2 separate regions of the Homo sapiens genome follow, and region 2 is linked to region 1. Evidence: fine-mapped expression QTL. A gene starts in region 1. The other region holds a variant in brackets. All regions are shown on one strand. Distances are from middle to middle. Region 1 holds the start of MAPT (microtubule associated protein tau). Region 2 holds the start of LINC02210-CRHR1 (LINC02210-CRHR1 readthrough).

Region 1 (8,595 bases):
CTTTCCCAGTGTGGGGCCAACATGACTGGGTCTTTATACCCCCACCTCTGTCAGTCACTCAACGTGGTCTCCCTGCAACAAGGTGACTCTTGCAGCCGAGACAATCCCTGAAGGGACAGAGGGCTGAAGCCTGTCTGCCAACAGCACTCCCAGTGGCTGGAACAAGTCCTTCCCTATAGGGGAATCTGGGCGGCACACCTCCATCTCCATGTCCATCACATACGATATCACAGACATTTAAATATTTTGATAACTGTACATAAGAGTTTCCTTTATAATCTTATAGATCTTATTTTATGCATTTGAAAATATTCTTCTGAGACAGGGCTTTTATCATATTGCCATAGGGTGCCACGATATAAAAAAGGTTAAATACTCTCTGATTCAGAAGTATCCAATGATGACTTCTCTCTCATGCATTTAATTGAAAATCTGGTTTTTCTCCTTCTCTGCTAGTTCTCTACCTCTCTCCCCACCTCCCACATCATAGCCTATTCACATATGTCTGAATCTCATGATAGACAAGTTCAGGTTCTTTTCCCAGGTTCTTTTTACCACATCCCCCCACCCCCACATAAAAAGTATATATGGCACAGCCTAGGTTCCACCCAAATCCTTTCTCCTCTTCTTCCTGGGCCCACAACTCTCCTACATACATTGGTATACCTTGCGCTTAGGGATGGCCATGTGACTAAGTTCTAACAGTGGAACATGATCAGATGCCACTTCCAGCCTCTAAGACAGCCAGTGTGTTTCCTCCATAAGCTCCTTCTCTTCCTCCCAACTGGAGACTCTAAATGATGACCCTGCCTCAAGCAAGCAAACAACAAGTCCCTCAGGGGTGGTGTAGGCTGCAAATGGAAGGAGCTTGAGTCCCAAACCTTCCACGGAGAAGGCTGGCTACCAACCTGGATCACTCACCCAAGACTGCTCGAAGAGTTGGTTTGAACCATTGTGTTTTGGGGTCTATTTATTACAACAGTTTAGCTTGCTTTGTGAATAGATTTAGTGGCAGAGCCTCCAAATTCTATAGATACATTGATCTCAGTCCTAACCGCATCTGGAACACCATTAAATAAAGGAATTGCAAACCCAGAGAAGGTAATGAATTTGTCTAAGGTCATACAAGATGGCTAGGATCAGGACCCAACTCTCCAGTTTTCTTTCTTCTCTGCTATTCTGCCTTCTGTGATCCTACATAAGTGGGCATGATTGTATAACATATGCGGCCATGAGATTTCTCTTTCAGCAAGAGAAAGGGACAGGAAGAAAGAGAGGGAATGCATTTTCTTGGCCTGAATTAGTGTGAGCCATTAGTTACCTACATTGACTAAATTATCTGGAATGAACATTCAACTCTACATCACATATAGTTAAAATGACAGATCTGCTTAAGATTGTTTCTAGCATACGTTATTTCAATTTAGGCAAATGTGACCATTCAGTGTGAGGGGACCATACTGTCATTAGGTCCCTGTCAGTTCTCAATTATACTGTTATCTTAGAGGGGGAAAAATGTGAAATTTGAATGTAGACGAGTGTTGATTTGACTGCTACAGTTTATTTTACGTATAGAAATAAAATAATGTGTAGCAAAAGCATTATTACAAAGATGATAATGAAATAACTAGTATTTATAATAGTATAATAGTATAGTATTTATAATAGTATGATAGTTTAATGACTATTTGTCAGATGTTGTGTAAGAAACTTTATACACACACACACACACACCTCATTTAATTCCTGTATCAATCAGGATACAGGACGCTGTGGTAACAACTCCTCAAATCTCGGTGGCTTGCACAACAAATGCTTATTTCTTTTTTTTTTTTGACACCAAGTCTTGCTCTGTAACAGGCTGGAGTGCAATGGTGCAATCTCGGCTCACTGCAGCCTCTGCCTCCTGGGTTCAAGCGATTCTCCTGCCTCAGTCTCTCGAGTAGCTGGGAACACAGGCACGCGCCACCACATCTGGCTAATTTTTGTGATTTTAGTAGAGATGGGATTTCACCATGTTGCTCAGGCTGGCCTTGAACTCCTGACCTCAAGCGATCCACCCACCTCAGCCTCCCAAAGTGCTGGGATTACAGGCATGAGCCACTGCGCCCAGCCCCAAATGTTTATTTCTTGCTCATGTGACATGTACTTCCTCGAGTTTTTCCTTCCTGAGATCTAAGCTGAAGGAACAGCTCTCTGGAGCCACGCCATTCTGGTGGCGGAAAGGAAGAGTAAAAGTGGTAGAACCTTGCAATGCTCTTGAAGCGCCTATTTGGAATGTCTACATCATGTAAATGGTAATGGACAAGTATGTATAATCCCCACACCAAAAAAAGGGGACACTATTGGGGACAATAACCACATTTCAATGCTGCAAGACGGATATTGACTGCACCCCCTTCCCACTTTCAGAAAGAAGAAGAGTAATTTTGCTGAACTCCTTCTAGAGACTGGAAATGTCCCTTCCAGTTGGGGTGATTAGGGAAGGCTTTGGTAAAATTTGAGCTAGAGTTTGAAGGTTAGGTAGACTACTGGTGGGTGAAGAAAGAACAAGGACCTTTGTAGGCAAAGGAAAACCTCAGAATTACAGAGGTGGAAAAAGAGTTCTAGTCAAGCCACTTCAGCTGGCTACAGAGTAGGTGGGAAAGAAAATGGGAGGACAAGGGCTCAGATGATGGGGGGTTGGGGCATTGGGGGGACACTTGAAAGCTAAACTAAGGGGTTGAACTTAATTTAGGAGGCAGTTAGAAGCTTTTACATATTTTTGAGCAAGAGAGTGACATAATTAAAATGATCTGGGCCAGGTGTGGTGGCTCACACCTGTAATCCCAGCACTTTGGGAGGCTGAGGAGCTTGGGTCACCTGAGGTCAGGAGATCGAGACCAGCCTGGCCAACATGGTGAAATCCCGTCCTACTAAAAATACAAAAATTAGCCGGGAGTGGTGGCATATGCCTGTAATCCCAGTAGCTGGGAGGCTGAGACAGGAAAATCGCTTGAACCCGGGAAACAGGTTGCAGTGAGCCGAGATCGTGCCACTGCACTCCAGCCTGGGCAACAGAGCGAGACTCCATCTCAAAAAAACAAAACAAACACACACAAAAAACCAAAAATAAATAAATAAAATGATCACTTCTGAATACTGATCTAACTAGGGGTTGCAGGGTGGGCTGATATAGGGAGAAACTGGAGAGCAAGGAGATCACTAAGGTCCCTACATGTCCAGAACCAAGATAGAGGTCTTGAACTAGGATGGTGGCAGTTAGAACAACAACAACAAAAAGTCAATTCCAGGCTGAGTGCAGTGGCTCATGCCTGTAATCCCAACGCTTTGGGAGGCTGAGGTGGGAGTTAGAAAGCAGCCTGGGCAACACTGCAAGACCTCCTCTCTAAAAAAAAAAAAAAAAAAAAGTTAGCCAGGTGTGGTGGTGCCCACCTGTAGTCCCAGCAACTCAGAAGGCTGAGGTGGGAAGATTGCTTGAGCCCCAGGAGTTCAAGCTTGCCGTGAGCTACGATTGTGCCACTGCACTCCAGCCTGAGCAAGACCTTGTCTCCAAAAAAAGGTCAATTCCACTGACTTTTCTAAGGTGTACACCATCAAGGGGCAGCTCCATCTCCAGGCCATTGGCTCATGAGACATTCTGTAGTCAGAAGGCTAGGGCAGATTGCTTTGAGCAAGCCCCCATGGTGGTTCTCACTCCTACTTCTTTGGGTATATGCCCCTCTGTTTAAAAATAAAGTTAATATGCATTTAAAAAAAAAAAGGAGAAAAAGGTCAGTTCCAGAAACTGTGTGAATAAAGCATTTTACTTGCTTTTTCTATTAATCTATAACATATGTTGATTTTTTAAAAAGAATATAAGAGCTATGCAAATTGGAGCTTCAAGACAACTTCCCATCTCCCTAGGAGGAGATGGCTGCCCTAAACCCCCCTACATAGAAATCATCCCACTGCTTGGGCTTAAACTTGATGTTGGGGAAATGAAAAATCCAAGCTAAGGCCGAAGCCTGGGGCCTGGGCGACCAGCAGAATGAGGACCACTGGTCAGTTTCAGGCTGAGGTGCGTCTTCCAGGGGACAATCTCTAGCTGGCCCTTAAACATTCAGACTTCAAGCTCTATTTACAGCATAAAGGTGTTTCAAAAGACGTGATACAAATAACTGCAAATGCTCTGCGATGTGTTAAGCACTGTTTGAAATTCGTCTAATTTAAGATTTTTTTTTCTGACGTAACGGTTAGATTCACGTTTCTTTTTTTTTAAGTACAGTTCTACTGTATTGTAACTGAGTTAGCTTGCTTTAAGCCGATTTGTTAAGGAAAGGATTCACCTTGGTCAGTAACAAAAAAGGTGGGAAAAAAGCAAGGAGAAAGGAAGCAGCCTGGGGGAAAGAGACCTTAGCCAGGGGGGCGGTTTCGGGACTACGAAGGGTCGGGGCGGACGGACTCGAGGGCCGGCCACGTGGAAGGCCGCTCAGGACTTCTGTAGGAGAGGACACCGCCCCAGGCTGACTGAAAGTAAAGGGCAGCGGACCCAGCGGCGGAGCCACTGGCCTTGCCCCGACCCCGCATGGCCCGAAGGAGGACACCCACCCCCGCAACGACACAAAGACTCCAACTACAGGAGGTGGAGAAAGCGCGTGCGCCACGGAACGCGCGTGCGCGCTGCGGTCAGCGCCGCGGCCTGAGGCGTAGCGGGAGGGGGACCGCGAAAGGGCAGCGCCGAGAGGAACGAGCCGGGAGACGCCGGACGGCCGAGCGGCAGGGCGCTCGCGCGCGCCCACTAGTGGCCGGAGGAGAAGGCTCCCGCGGAGGCCGCGCTGCCCGCCCCCTCCCCTGGGGAGGCTCGCGTTCCCGCTGCTCGCGCCTGCGCCGCCCGCCGGCCTCAGGAACGCGCCCTCTTCGCCGGCGCGCGCCCTCGCAGTCACCGCCACCCACCAGCTCCGGCACCAACAGCAGCGCCGCTGCCACCGCCCACCTTCTGCCGCCGCCACCACAGCCACCTTCTCCTCCTCCGCTGTCCTCTCCCGTCCTCGCCTCTGTCGACTATCAGGTAAGCGCCGCGGCTCCGAAATCTGCCTCGCCGTCCGCCTCTGTGCACCCCTGCGCCGCCGCCCCTCGCCCTCCCTCTCCGCAGACTGGGGCTTCGTGCGCCGGGCATCGGTCGGGGCCACCGCAGGGCCCCTCCCTGCCTCCCCTGCTCGGGGGCTGGGGCCAGGGCGGCCTGGAAAGGGACCTGAGCAAGGGATGCACGCACGCGTGAGTGCGCGCGTGTGTGTGTGCTGGAGGGTCTTCACCACCAGATTCGCGCAGACCCCAGGTGGAGGCTGTGCCGGCAGGGTGGGGCGCGGCGGCGGTGACTTGGGGGAGGGGGCTGCCCTTCACTCTCGACTGCAGCCTTTTGCCGCAATGGGCGTGTGTGTGTGTGTGTGTGTGTGTGTGTGTGTGTGTGTGTGTGGAGGGGTCCGATAACGACCCCCGAAACCGAATCTGAAATCCGCTGTCCCTGCCGCTGTTCGCCATCAGCTCTAAGAAAGACGTGGATCGGGTTCTAGAAAAGATGACTCCCTGCACGCCCCTCCCTGCACCTCCCGAGCAGTGATTCCGACAGGGCCTTCACTGCCCCTGATTTTAGGCGGGGGCCGGCCCCCTCCCCTTTTCCTCCTTCAGAAACCCGTAGGGGACATTTGGGGGCTGGGAGAAATCGAGGAGATGGGGAGGGGTCCACGCGCTGTCACTTTAGTTGCCCTTCCCCCTGCGCACGCCTGGCACAGAGACGCGAGCAGCGCCGTGCCTGAGAACAGTGCGCGGATCCCACTGTGCACGCTCGCAAAGGCAGGGTTCACCTGGCCTGGCGATGTGGACGGACTCGGCGGCCGCTGGTCCCCGTTCGCGGGCACGCACAGCCGCAGCCACGCACGGATGGGCGCGGGGCTGCAGGTGCATCTCGGGGCGGATTTCTTTCTCAGCGCTCGGAGCGCAGGGCGCCCGGCGTGTGCGCTCCCTGCCGGAGGCGCGGGGCTGGCGCGCAGGGCTCGCCCCTCACTGCGGCAGTGGGTGTGGACCCTGGTGGGCGAGGAAGGGGGAGGATAGGCTGTGCCTCCTCCCACTCCCGCCCCCAGCCCCCCTTTTTTTCCCCCTCGGAACGCGAGGTGCCATCTTTTTTCGGCGTGTCACGTCTTTACGGTGCCATGCCAAACCGGGTGGCCGGGCTTCATAGGACAGGGCGGGGCCTGGCATTAAAGGGAGGGGGACAATCAGCGCTGAAATCTTGGCGTTTTGCTGCTGCGGGCGTGAGCACTGGGGGCGTTCGCCCAGCACCTTCTTCGGGGGCTCTTTGCTTTGTCTGTAGAGGTTACGTGATCTGCGCTCCCAGCCCTGGTTTCTGGCTTTTATTCTGAGGGTGTTCAGTCAACCTCCCCCCTACGCCCATGCGCCTCTCTTTCCTTTTTCGCTCCTCATTTCCGAGCCCATTGTTGGATCTCGAGGCTTGCTGGGTTCGATGAACTCGAGTCAACCCCCCGACCCCCGGCACGCATGGAACGGGCGTGACCGCGCGCAGCCTCGTCTCGGAGTCTGCCGGCGCCGGGAAGCTTCTGAAGGGATGGGATTCGAGTCTCCGTGCGCGCTGCGGGCGGCGGCAGAGGGATCTCGCCCCTCCCTACACCCCAAGTGTCCTGAGGGCCACGCCACACCAGGTTGCCCAGCGAGGGACGCTGGCTACCCATCCGGGGATGGGTGGGGAGCCCTGGCGGGGCCTCTCCGGCTTTACGCCCTGTTGCTTCGCCTGGCCGGAGAATGTGAGGAAGGGGCATAAGGTTACTGGTGCTTCGGCCACACCCATCTTTCTGAGCCCACTGGACTGGGCGCAGAGGGGGGATTGCCATGGAAACCACAGGTGTCCGGAGAGGGGATCTTGGGGCTGGCCTCACCCCTTCCCTGCGGAGATTGGGGACCCTGGGGTAGGGGGAGCCGCGCCCAGTCGGCCTCCTGGAGGACACGGGAGGAAGCCCCGAACCCCCGCGCCTGAGGCTGTTTCTGATTGGCCCCTGGAGGCCGCAGACACGCAGATAGGCGGCCCTGGGTGTATTTTTATTAATATTATGTCCGTACTGATTAATATTATTTATCTTAAATAAATTTCACCCGTGTCCAAGTTCACCGCGCCCCCAAAACCGAGTCTGGGGCGGCAGGGGGAACTCCTGGCCAACGAATCCATGCCTCGCCCTCCTGTGATGAACCTGGTACGCACGGTTTTCTGGTTAATTCTATCGCTGAAAACTGGTGCGGGGGGCGCACTTCTGAGACGGAAGAGCATCTAGGAGCTGAATCCTCCACGCGGGTCGCCCAGGTTGATCTGAATTTCTGGGGAATGGCTTGGCTGCCCGCCCGGGACCAGGCCGACCCTCCTTGACGGTGGCGTAGAGGGCTGGAGCCTGGGTACTGCGAGGCTCCTCGCATGGCTGGGCCCGCCGCGAGGGGTTGCAGAGCGGCTCAGGGATCGATTCAAGCATCGTCTCTCCTCCCTCGCCCCCAGACAGAGCTGGGCGCGGGGTTCCCCTTCCAGATGGAGCGAGGGTCTCGGGGTGGCCCCGGAAAAGGGGAGCCCGCGGCCACGGCTACGTATTGCCATCTCGCGAGCAGAGATGTCACCTCCTGCCTTTGGAGGAAAGGGAGCCCGGTGGGGATGAGCGCATTTAGCCCAATGCTGGGAACAAAGCGCACTCCGCGCTTCTGCGATTTCGCTCCATTTTGAAATGTGTTGGCGCTTTGGTGGGGCCGCTGCGGTGGGCAAGGCCGGGGGCGCTGTTAATGGAGGAACCTCAGGGGGACGGTCCTTCGTAGGAAACTCTATCCTGGCTCTGCGCGCGCTTTAAGGAAATGGCTTCCCTCCAGGACCTCGAGGGATGCAGCTTTTGCGCGGATGACGGTGGGGTGCTGAACCAGCCGGTGCGCCTCTGGAAATGTCTGGGCACGGATCCTGGGGCCATCGACGACTCCTCCCCATTCCCAGCAGGCGGGAGCTCTTACATTCCGAGCGAGTGACCCCTCTCACCCTCTGGCGCTCACACACCTGTAACTCCAAACCTCCGTCTCAGAATGGTCCAGGCTGGAAGGGATGATGGGGGCTCCGACAGCGACTGCCTAGCTCACCCCTCTGCGTGCTCAGGCTCCAGGCTCAGCAGGACCAATTTGAGTTCTATCTGATCCCCCTCGGCCCCTTAACTGACCCATCCTACAGGAGACAGGGAAATGTCTTTCCTACCGCGGTTGATTCTGGGGTGTCATTTTGTGTTTTGTGATGGCTGCTTATATTTACTGTATAAGCATTGTATTTACTGTATAAGCATTGTATTATAATTACTGTATAAGCTGCTTATATTTACTGTATAAGCATCTCCAAATCCTCCCTCTACGTAAACAAATTAATGGATAAACAGATAAGTGTATCCCCTGCCCCCACCCCTGCTACGCAGGTCCGGAGTGACTCTTGAAGCTCATACATTCCTTGGCCAAGTTTGCTTCTCTAACAGATGTTTATATAGCAATAACCTGGCTTGGCTCTTGGGTTCACCTTTGGACGATTTGGGGAAGGGG
Region 2 (8,595 bases), 280 kb before region 1:
GGCTGGAGTGCAGTGGTGCGATCTTGGCTCACTGCAACCTCCACCTTCCGGGCTCAAGCAATTCTTATGCCTCAGCCTCCCATGTAGCTGAGATTATAGGTGTGTGCCACCACACCCGGCTAATTTTTGTATTTTTAGTAGAGACAGGGTGGGGGAGTGTTGGGGGAGATGGGGCATGGCAGGGAGGGGATGGCGGGTTTTACCATGTTGGCCAGGCTGGTCTTGAGCTCCTGGCTTCAGGTGATCCTCCCACCTCAGCCTCTAAAAGTGGGATTACAGACATAAGCCACTGCGCCCAGCATTTTTTTTTTTTTTTTAGACAGTGTTGCTGTGTTGCCCAGGCTGGAGTGCAGTGGCACAATCTCGGCTCACTGCAACGTCTGCCTCCTGGGCTCCAGCGATTGTCGTGCCTCAGCCCCCCAGTAGCTGGGATTACAGGTGCACACCATCATGCCTGGCTAACTGTATTTTTAGTAGAGATGGGGTTTCACCATGTTGGCCAGGCTGCTCTCAAACTCCTGGCTTCAAGCAATCCACCTGCCTCAGCCTCCCACAGTGCTGGGATTACAGGCCTGAGCCACTGCACCAAGCCCCAGCTCCAGATTGTGAGTTTCAGAGCCAGGCTAGATAGGATTCAGACTCAGAACTGTGAGATTTCTGCTGCTCAGGCTGTTAACCAGTGACTCATGGTTTTTTTTTTTTTAGGCAGAGTTTTACTCTTGTTGCCCAGGCTGGAGTGCGATGGCTCGATCCCAGCTCATTGCAACCTCCGCCTCCCAGGTTCAAGTGATTCTCCTGCCTCAGCCTCCCAAGTAGCTGGGATTACAGGTGCCCGCCACCATGCCCAGCTAATTTTTGAATTTTTAGTAGAGACGGGGTTTCACCATGTTGGCCAGGCTGGTCTCGAGCTCCTGACTTCGTGATCTGCCCACCTCGGCCTCCCAAAGTGCTGGAATTACAAGCGTGAGCCACCGCGCCCTGCCTGACTTGTGGTCTTTTGAGATTATTTCTGATGTCCCATAGACATTTCAAAAGCAAAATGTCAAAAGCTACACTTGCCTCTCAAACCTTCATTCTCTCTGTGTGATAGGCACCCTCCTTCCCATCTTCCTTCGCTTCCATGGGTCACTCAAAGCTGAAGACCTGCAAGCCATCTCAGGATCCTGTCCTGTATCCCATCAACACTCATCACACCCTCTCAATTCTGGCTCCTAAATACCCCTTGGATTTGGCCTCTCCTCCCCGTTCCCCACTGGCATTGTTTTATTTCAGGTCTTTATGATTTCTTGCCTGGGTTTCTGCAGCAGCCTCCTAACTGCTCTCCCTGACTCCAGTCTTGCCCTCTCTGTTTCATTTTTCATATTGCACACAGGGTGATTTTTCTAAAATGTAAATGTGACCACATCTCTTGCAGGCTTAAAACCTCTCAAAGGTTCTTCACCTCCTCAAGGCTGCAGCACACACCTCCCAGCACAGCTCTGCAAGTTGACCCCGCCCTTCTTCTCCATCGGTGGTTCTCAGAGTGTAGCCCTAAGAGCAGCAGCACTCTGACCCGCTCCATCAAGATCTCTAGGCTTGGAGCTTGCGAGACTATGTAAACAAGGCCAGTTTTTTGTTCGTTTGTTTGTTTTTTGGAGACAGAGTCTCGCTGTGTCACCCAGGCTGGAGTGCAGTGGCTTGATCTTGGCTTACTCCATCTCCACCTCCCAGGTTGAAGTGATTCTCCCGCCTCAACCTCCTGAGCAGCTGGGACTATAGGTGTGCACCACCACACCCAGCTAATTTTTGCATTTTTAGTAGAAATGGGGTTTCAGGCCGGGCGCGGTGGCTCACGCCTGTAATCCTAGCACTTTGGGAGGCCAAGGCGGACGGATCACGAGGTCAGGAGATCGAGACCATCCTGGCTAACATGGTGAAACCCCGTCTCTACTAAAAATACAAAAAATTTAGCCGGGCATGGTAGCGGGTGCCTGTAGTCCCAGCTACTCGGGAGGCTGAGGTAGGAGAATGGCGTGAACCCAGGAGGCGGAGCTTGCAGTGAGCCGAGATCACGCCACTGCACTCCAGCCTGGACGACAGCGAGACTCTGTCTCAAAAAAAAAAAAAAAAAAAAAAAAAAAAAGAAAGAAAAAGAAAAAAAAAAGAAATGGGGTTTCACCACATTGGCCAGGCTAGTTTCGAACTCCTGACCTCAAGCGATCCACCCGCCTTGACCTCCCAAAGTGCTTGGATTACCGGTGTGAGTCACTGTGCCCAGCCAACAAGGCCAGTTTTTATGCACATTTAAGTTTGAGAACCACATTGCAGTTAATCTCATCTGGTTTCCTTTCTTGAACTCCATGCTTTAGCCTCATTGAACCATCAGTTTCTGGAAAATGGTATATTATCCCTCACCTTCTATAATTTGCACATGCTATTCTCTGCCCTTATCCCATGGCAATGGCTTTGTCTGCTTTTATCCATATTCCCCACCTCTGTGGAAACTGGAAGGCAGGGTCACCACCTTATTCATCTTTACATCTTTAGGGTCTTGGACCTGACATACAGTAGGTGCTCAATAACTATTTTATTTCTCTCTCTCTCTCTTTTTTTTTTAGAGAAGGGGTCTCACTCTGTCACCTAGGCTGGAGTGCAGTGGCTCAATCATGGCTCACCTCCCCCTCAACCTCCTGGGCTCAAGCAATCCTCCTGCCTCAGCCTCCCAAGTAGCTGAGACTACAGGCACTCACCACCATGGCCAGCTAATTTTTAATTTTTTTGTAGAGATGGGGGTCTTGTTATGTTGCCCTGGCTGGTCTCCAAATATTGGCCTTAAGTGATCCTTCCACCTCAGCCTCCCAAAAGCGCCACTGCACTACAGCCTGGGCGACAGAGTAAGATTCCATCTCAAAAAATAAAAATAAAGATAATACACACACACATATACACATACACCTCTTTATTTCTTCAGCGAGACCTGAAGATATATATGCATAATATAAGAACAGGATGCTATAAAAAATGAACAATAAGAAAACAAGGAAAACTATTATAAATTAGAAATATGATAACCAAGGCTGGGTGCGGTGGCTCACGCCTGTAATCTATTACAGGCGTGAGCCAGTGAGCCTGGCCATTCAATAACTATTTTCTTAATGAACATTGAGGGTGAGATGAGCAGAAACGTAACTGCTAAAAGCAGGCAACATTCAGCTACCAGGATTTATGAGGGAGAACACAGTAAACTGTGCTATTACTTAGGAATACCTAGAGTCAATGTACATTTATTTTCATTTTACTCTAGCCCCACTGGTGATCTCTGCCCAGTAATCTAACTAAATTGATGACAGTGGGAATAAAAGGAAATCATAGATATGTATTATTGTAAAGGAAAAGAAATGCAAATGAATGGGTACAGGGACAGTCTATACAATTGAAGATCTCATCTCTTCATATATATATATATATTTTTTTTTCTTTTTTTTTTCAAGACAGGATCTTAGCACCTACTATTTGCAAGACTCCCCCTATGTTAACCTTTACAGCAACTCTCGGATGGATGTTTTATTATTGAGAGAACTGAGAGACAGAGGTCATTAAATATTTGTCCAAGATCCTACAGCTGCAACATGGTAAATCCACTGCTATTGGAACTTCCTGTTAAGTGAGTTCCATGGCCCCAAACTGCATTCCCACCCATGTTGCTCACAGATTGGTCACAATGTGGCTCACAGTCATAGGCACAGGTGAATGGAACAACCATTATTTTCGATAATGATTCTGGGGTATCATCTTTGACTCAAAAACGCAAACTGTTATTATTATCTATGCAGTCTACAGCCCTCTGCTCTACCAGCTGAGCTATCGAAGAGTGCACAAGCTGTTATTATATCACAAGATTTTTTTTTTCAGACAGGGTCTTATTCTGCGGCCCAGGCTGAAGTGAAGTGGCTCGATGGTAGCTCACTGCAGCCTTGAACTCCTGGGGTCAAGCGATCCTCCTACCTCAGCCTCCCAAGTAGCCGAAACTACAGGCAGGCACCACTATGCCTGGCTGACTTTTGTATTTTTTGTAGAGACGGGGTTTCGCCATGTTGCCAGGCTAATCTGCAACTCCTGGGCTCAAGCAGTCTGCCCACTTCACCCTCCCAAAGTGCTGGGATTTCAGGCTAGAGCCACCATGCCCAGCCCACAAGATCTAAACGCTACTGTTGAAGCAAAAAGACTTGAAGACAGAATTTGCCCTCCTAATATAAGCCCATGGTAACCTGAACCTCCTTCACCCTAACTCTCATCACAGTGTATTGTGATTACTTATTGAGGATGAAATTTGATTTTCCTTTTTGATGTACTTCTCCAACACAGTA[C/T]CTGGTATGTGGAAGGCACTCAAACTAGGGCCAACCTGGTGCCAGCTAACCTGGGACTAGTGCAAGCTCCTGAAATTCACCTGGTCAAGGGACACATGTTCACAGGATCTCCTGGGGTTGTGTCACCAAAAAAAAAAAAAAAAAAATTTCACCTGGTGTCTCTAGTCACCATGATTTTCTCTAAAATGCCACACAGAATTCTATGTATGGAATTTTTTTCTTTTCTTTTTTCTTTTTCTTTCTTTTTTTTTTTTTTGAGACAGTCTGTCGCCAGTCTGGAGTGCAGTGGCGTGATCTCGGCTCACTGCAGTCTCCTCCTCCCGGGTTCAAGCGGTTCTCCTGCCTCAGCCTCCCGAGTAGCTAGGACTACAGGTCCGTGCCACCACGCCCAGCTAATTTTTGTATTTTTAGTGGAGATGGGGTTTCACCATGTTGGCAAGGATGGTCTAGATCTCTTGACCTTGTGATCTGCCCGCCTCAGCCTCCCAAAGTGCTGGGATTACAGGCGTGAGCCACCGCGCCCGGCCAAAATTTTTTAAAAATAAGGAAAGTTCAAGTTTACTTTAGATACCATAGTTCAGGATTTAAACTCCTGTCCTTACTTTGGAATGTCATTTTAGATACTTATGTGATTGACTGAGGAAAAAGACATTGTAACTGATCTTATCCCCTTTTAAAAAAAAAACCAGCTAACAATTATTCATTTAGTCTTCTGTACATTGTGTGAAATAAAATATAGAAGACTAGGGGACAGTTTCTGCCCTCAAGGAGCTTATGTGGTTTTTTTCGTGCGTTTTTTTGTTGTTGTTGTTTTTGTTTGTTTGTTTGTTTTTTGACATGTTCTTACACTGTCACCCAGGCTGAAATGCAGTGGTGAGATCTCGGCTGACTGCAACCTCTGCCTCCCAGGCTCAAGCGACCCTCACCTCAGTCTCCTGAGTAGCTGGGACTACAGGCATGCACCATCATGCCCAGCTAATTTTTGTGTGTGTGTTTTTGTAGAGACGAGGTCTCGCCCTGTTGCCCAGGCTGGTCTCGAACTCCTGGCTTCAAGTGATTCACCTGCCTCAGCCTCTCAAAGTGCTGCGATTACAGTCATGAGCCGCCTCACCCCGCCAGTCAGGCTCTTAAAAAATCCATCACACAGGCCGGGCGCCATGGCTCATGCCTGTAATCCCAGCACTTGGGAGGCCAAGTCGGGCGGATCACGAGGTCAGGAGATTGAGACCATCCTGGCTAACACGGTGAAACCCCGTATCTACTAAAAATAACAAAAAATTAGTCGGGCATGCTGGCGGACGCCTGTAGTCCCAGCTACTCAGGAGGCTGAGACAGGAGAATGGCGTGAACCCGGAAGGCGGAGCTTGCAGTGAGCTGAGATAGTGCCACTGCACTCCAGCCTGGGAGACAGAGCGAGACTGTGTCTCAAAAAAAAGAGAAAAGAAAAAAAATCCATCATATGTATTCACTAATTTAATCTTCACAACAACTCTAAAGGGTAGGAACTATTTTTTTTGCCCCATTTTACAGATATGAAATGAGAGGCTGTGTTGAAGGTGTTTTCTGGGGTTGATTTAAATAGAATTAATAAACTCAGAAAAAAGATTCTTAATCGATAAAGGTGGTTTTTTTTTTTTTTTTTTTTGGTTTTTTTTTTTTTTTTTTGAGTCGGAGTCTCACTCTGTCATCCAGGCTGGAGTGCAGTGGCGTGATATCGGCTCACTGGAACCTCTGACTCCCTGGTTCAAGCAATTCTCCTGCCTCAGCCTCCCGAGTAGCTGGGATTACAGGCATGCGCCACCATGCCCGTGGTTTCACCATGTTGGCCAGGATGGTCTTGATCTCCTGACCTTGTGATCCGCCCACCTTGGCCTCCCAAAATGCTGGGATTACAGGCGTGAGCCACCGTGCCCGGCCTTGGCTTTCATTCTTATTGTCCCATGGTTACCAGAGCCTAAAGAGGTAAAGAGGTAAGACCTATGAGGCTCTCACAGTTTTTTTTTTTTTTTTTTTTTTTTGAAACAGGGTCTCGCTCTGTCGCCCAGGCTGGAGTGCAGTGGCGCGATCTTGGCTCACTGCAGCCTCCGCCTCCCGGTTCAAGCAATTCTCCCACCTCAGCCTTTCCAGTAGCTGGGATTACAGAGGCGCGCCACCACGCTTGGCTAATTTTTTTTTTGCATTTCTATTAGAGATCGGGTTTCACCATGCTGCGCAGGCTGGTCTCGAACTCCTGACCTCAGGTGATCCACCCACCTTGGCCTCCCAAAGTGCTGGGATTACAGGTGTGAGCCACCGTGCCCGGCCTCTCTCATAGTTTTATTATTCTATTTTCCACAGACCCTTCCTCCCTTAATTTTCATGCCTCTTTAATATTGTTTCTTTTACCTCACTGACATTCTTTTTCGTCCTCCTACCTTTTACTGTGGGTGTCTTATTACCCTTCTTTGGGAGTTTATCCTTTAGCATGTCATAGATCACTATCTTTAGGCAGAGGACCCTGCATCTTCTCTAGTCCTGATTGTCTACCCTTTCTCAAGTTCCATAACTTCAGTTGCCTCTGGGACACCTTCACTGGGTTTTACAAAACCCTGTTACCGGGAACTGAACATATTAAAAGCTAAGATTCCTCCCCAAATCTGCATGTTGCGCCAATTTTCCTGCCCAATTATCTTGTCTGTCCCCTGGTTTTGCGACCTTATTTAAACATTTAAATCCTTTTCTTTAAATTGGAATCTTGATGAGTGGTGCAAAAATCAATGGATACAAATGATATGCCGAGATATGTAAGTCTTCCGCCCACTGGTTCCCTAGGCACTCAGTTCCTCTCCCAGGAGGTAACCACTGTTGCCAGCTCTTAGAGTGATTTTTGATTCCTTCTTCTACCGGCTCTATCTCAAGTCCTTCCCTGTCTGTGAGATGTGTGCCCTTTCCTTTCCAGGCCCTAGTGAACTGATATCTGGTTGAGTTTATATATAAACATTTATATGTGTATATTTTATATACATATATAACATCTCTCCCTATGGCCTTCCGGCCTGGAGTTTTCATCACGTCGCTTCCTGGATGAAAGAATCTCGAGGGGTGAGGGGCAGGGGTTGGGGGTGATGGAGAAGAGAACCTAAAGGGGACTTAGGTAGGGGGTTCAGAGTTGCCAACTGGCGTGACGCTCTGTCAGGATTCCTATTCCTATTCCTCCCACCTCAGGCCCCCTTCTAGTCCTCTCAGCCAAAAGCCTCTCGTTTCCAAGGGCTGAGACAGAGACAGAGACAACGAGATGCACAGAGACAGAGACGCCAAGGCACCTGCATCCCTCTTCCCCTTCTGTCCCGCCCCATCGCTCTGACGGACACCATTGCTCAGCCAATGGCGCTCACGATGTGCCCCTGAAGGGCCAATGAGCGCCAGAGGAGGGCGGAAGATTCCCCGCCCCCACTTCTAGGCTTGGTTGAACCGTGCAGGTAGGTCCGGGGCTGGGGGAGCTGCCTTTGGCACTGGTGCCCCTGGGGGTGGGGGCACGAGTGGGCCAGGGTGATGGTGAGGTAGAGGAGGTGTCCCTGACCCGACGAGCTCGAGGGAGCGGCCTGGCTGGGAGGCGGGGGGCCGCGGGGCCCGGGGAGCGGGCGCCGCCGAGGGCCCTGGAAGCGGCGGGGCTGGGGGAGAGGGGACGCGTGTGTGGGGCACGGGGACGCCCGCCCAGCGCCCACTCGTAGGCCTGGGACGCGGGCTGCCGGCCGAGTGGCCTGAGGGCCTGGCTGCCCGGGGGGCGGGCCGGGGCCGCGGCCGGGGGCGCGGAGCGGAGCTCGGGGCGCCAGGCCGAGCCGAGGTGGGACGGACCGACGCGGAGAGGAAGGGAAGCCGCATCCCGCGGGGCGCCCCTCCTGAAGCGAGCCGGGCAGCGGCCGCGGGCGCCCCTGCCCTGAGCCCACCCCGCGCTCTGCCCTCCCTAACAATGGGAATGGGGCAGAAGGAGGCGCCCCACTGCGGGGAGGTGAGGGGTGGGTTTGGGACTGGGGTCCGCGGTGGGGGGAGGTGCGATCTCGGGCTCTCGCCTCTCCGCTCCCTCTGGCTCTGGAGTTGGGGGCCCCTGTGGGGCTCTGAAGTCCGCCTGAGACTTGGGTCAAGAGTCAAACTGTCGCCCCCCGCTCCTCCCCCAAAATCCGGTGAGCGGTAAGGAAAGTGATGCCAAGTCTTCGAAGCCTCAGTGACAAACGCATAGCAAGAACACATCCACTCCAGAGGTGTTTATTTT

The links. PIP is the estimated chance that this variant, and not a neighbour inherited with it, causes the effect.
Region 2: its variant is the best candidate, but not a certain one, in a credible set for the expression of MAPT in testis (GTEx, PIP 0.62).

Annotation. Positions count from the first base shown.
Region 1 is chr17:45,889,637-45,898,231 of GRCh38, forward strand. It overlaps MAPT (microtubule associated protein tau), which reads left to right and starts at 4,918. Exons shown (of 13, transcript NM_001377265.1): 1 at 4,918-5,050. It overlaps MAPT-AS1 (MAPT antisense RNA 1), which reads right to left and starts at 5,877. Exons shown (of 2, transcript NR_024559.1): 1 at 5,844-5,877. MAPT-IT1 (MAPT intronic transcript 1) reads left to right here and starts at 6,147. Exons shown (of 1, transcript NR_024560.1): 1 at 6,147-8,595. RefSeq lists enhancers at 4,861-5,746, 5,747-6,632, 7,519-8,403.
Region 2 is chr17:45,612,569-45,621,163 of GRCh38, forward strand. It overlaps LINC02210-CRHR1 (LINC02210-CRHR1 readthrough), which reads left to right and starts at 7,778. Exons shown (of 15, transcript NM_001256299.3): 1 at 7,778-7,804. It overlaps LINC02210 (long intergenic non-protein coding RNA 2210), which reads left to right and starts at 7,761. Exons shown (of 6, transcript NR_138260.1): 1 at 7,761-7,804. RefSeq lists an enhancer at 5,915-6,894. The variant C/T (reference allele first, on the strand shown) is at 4,347.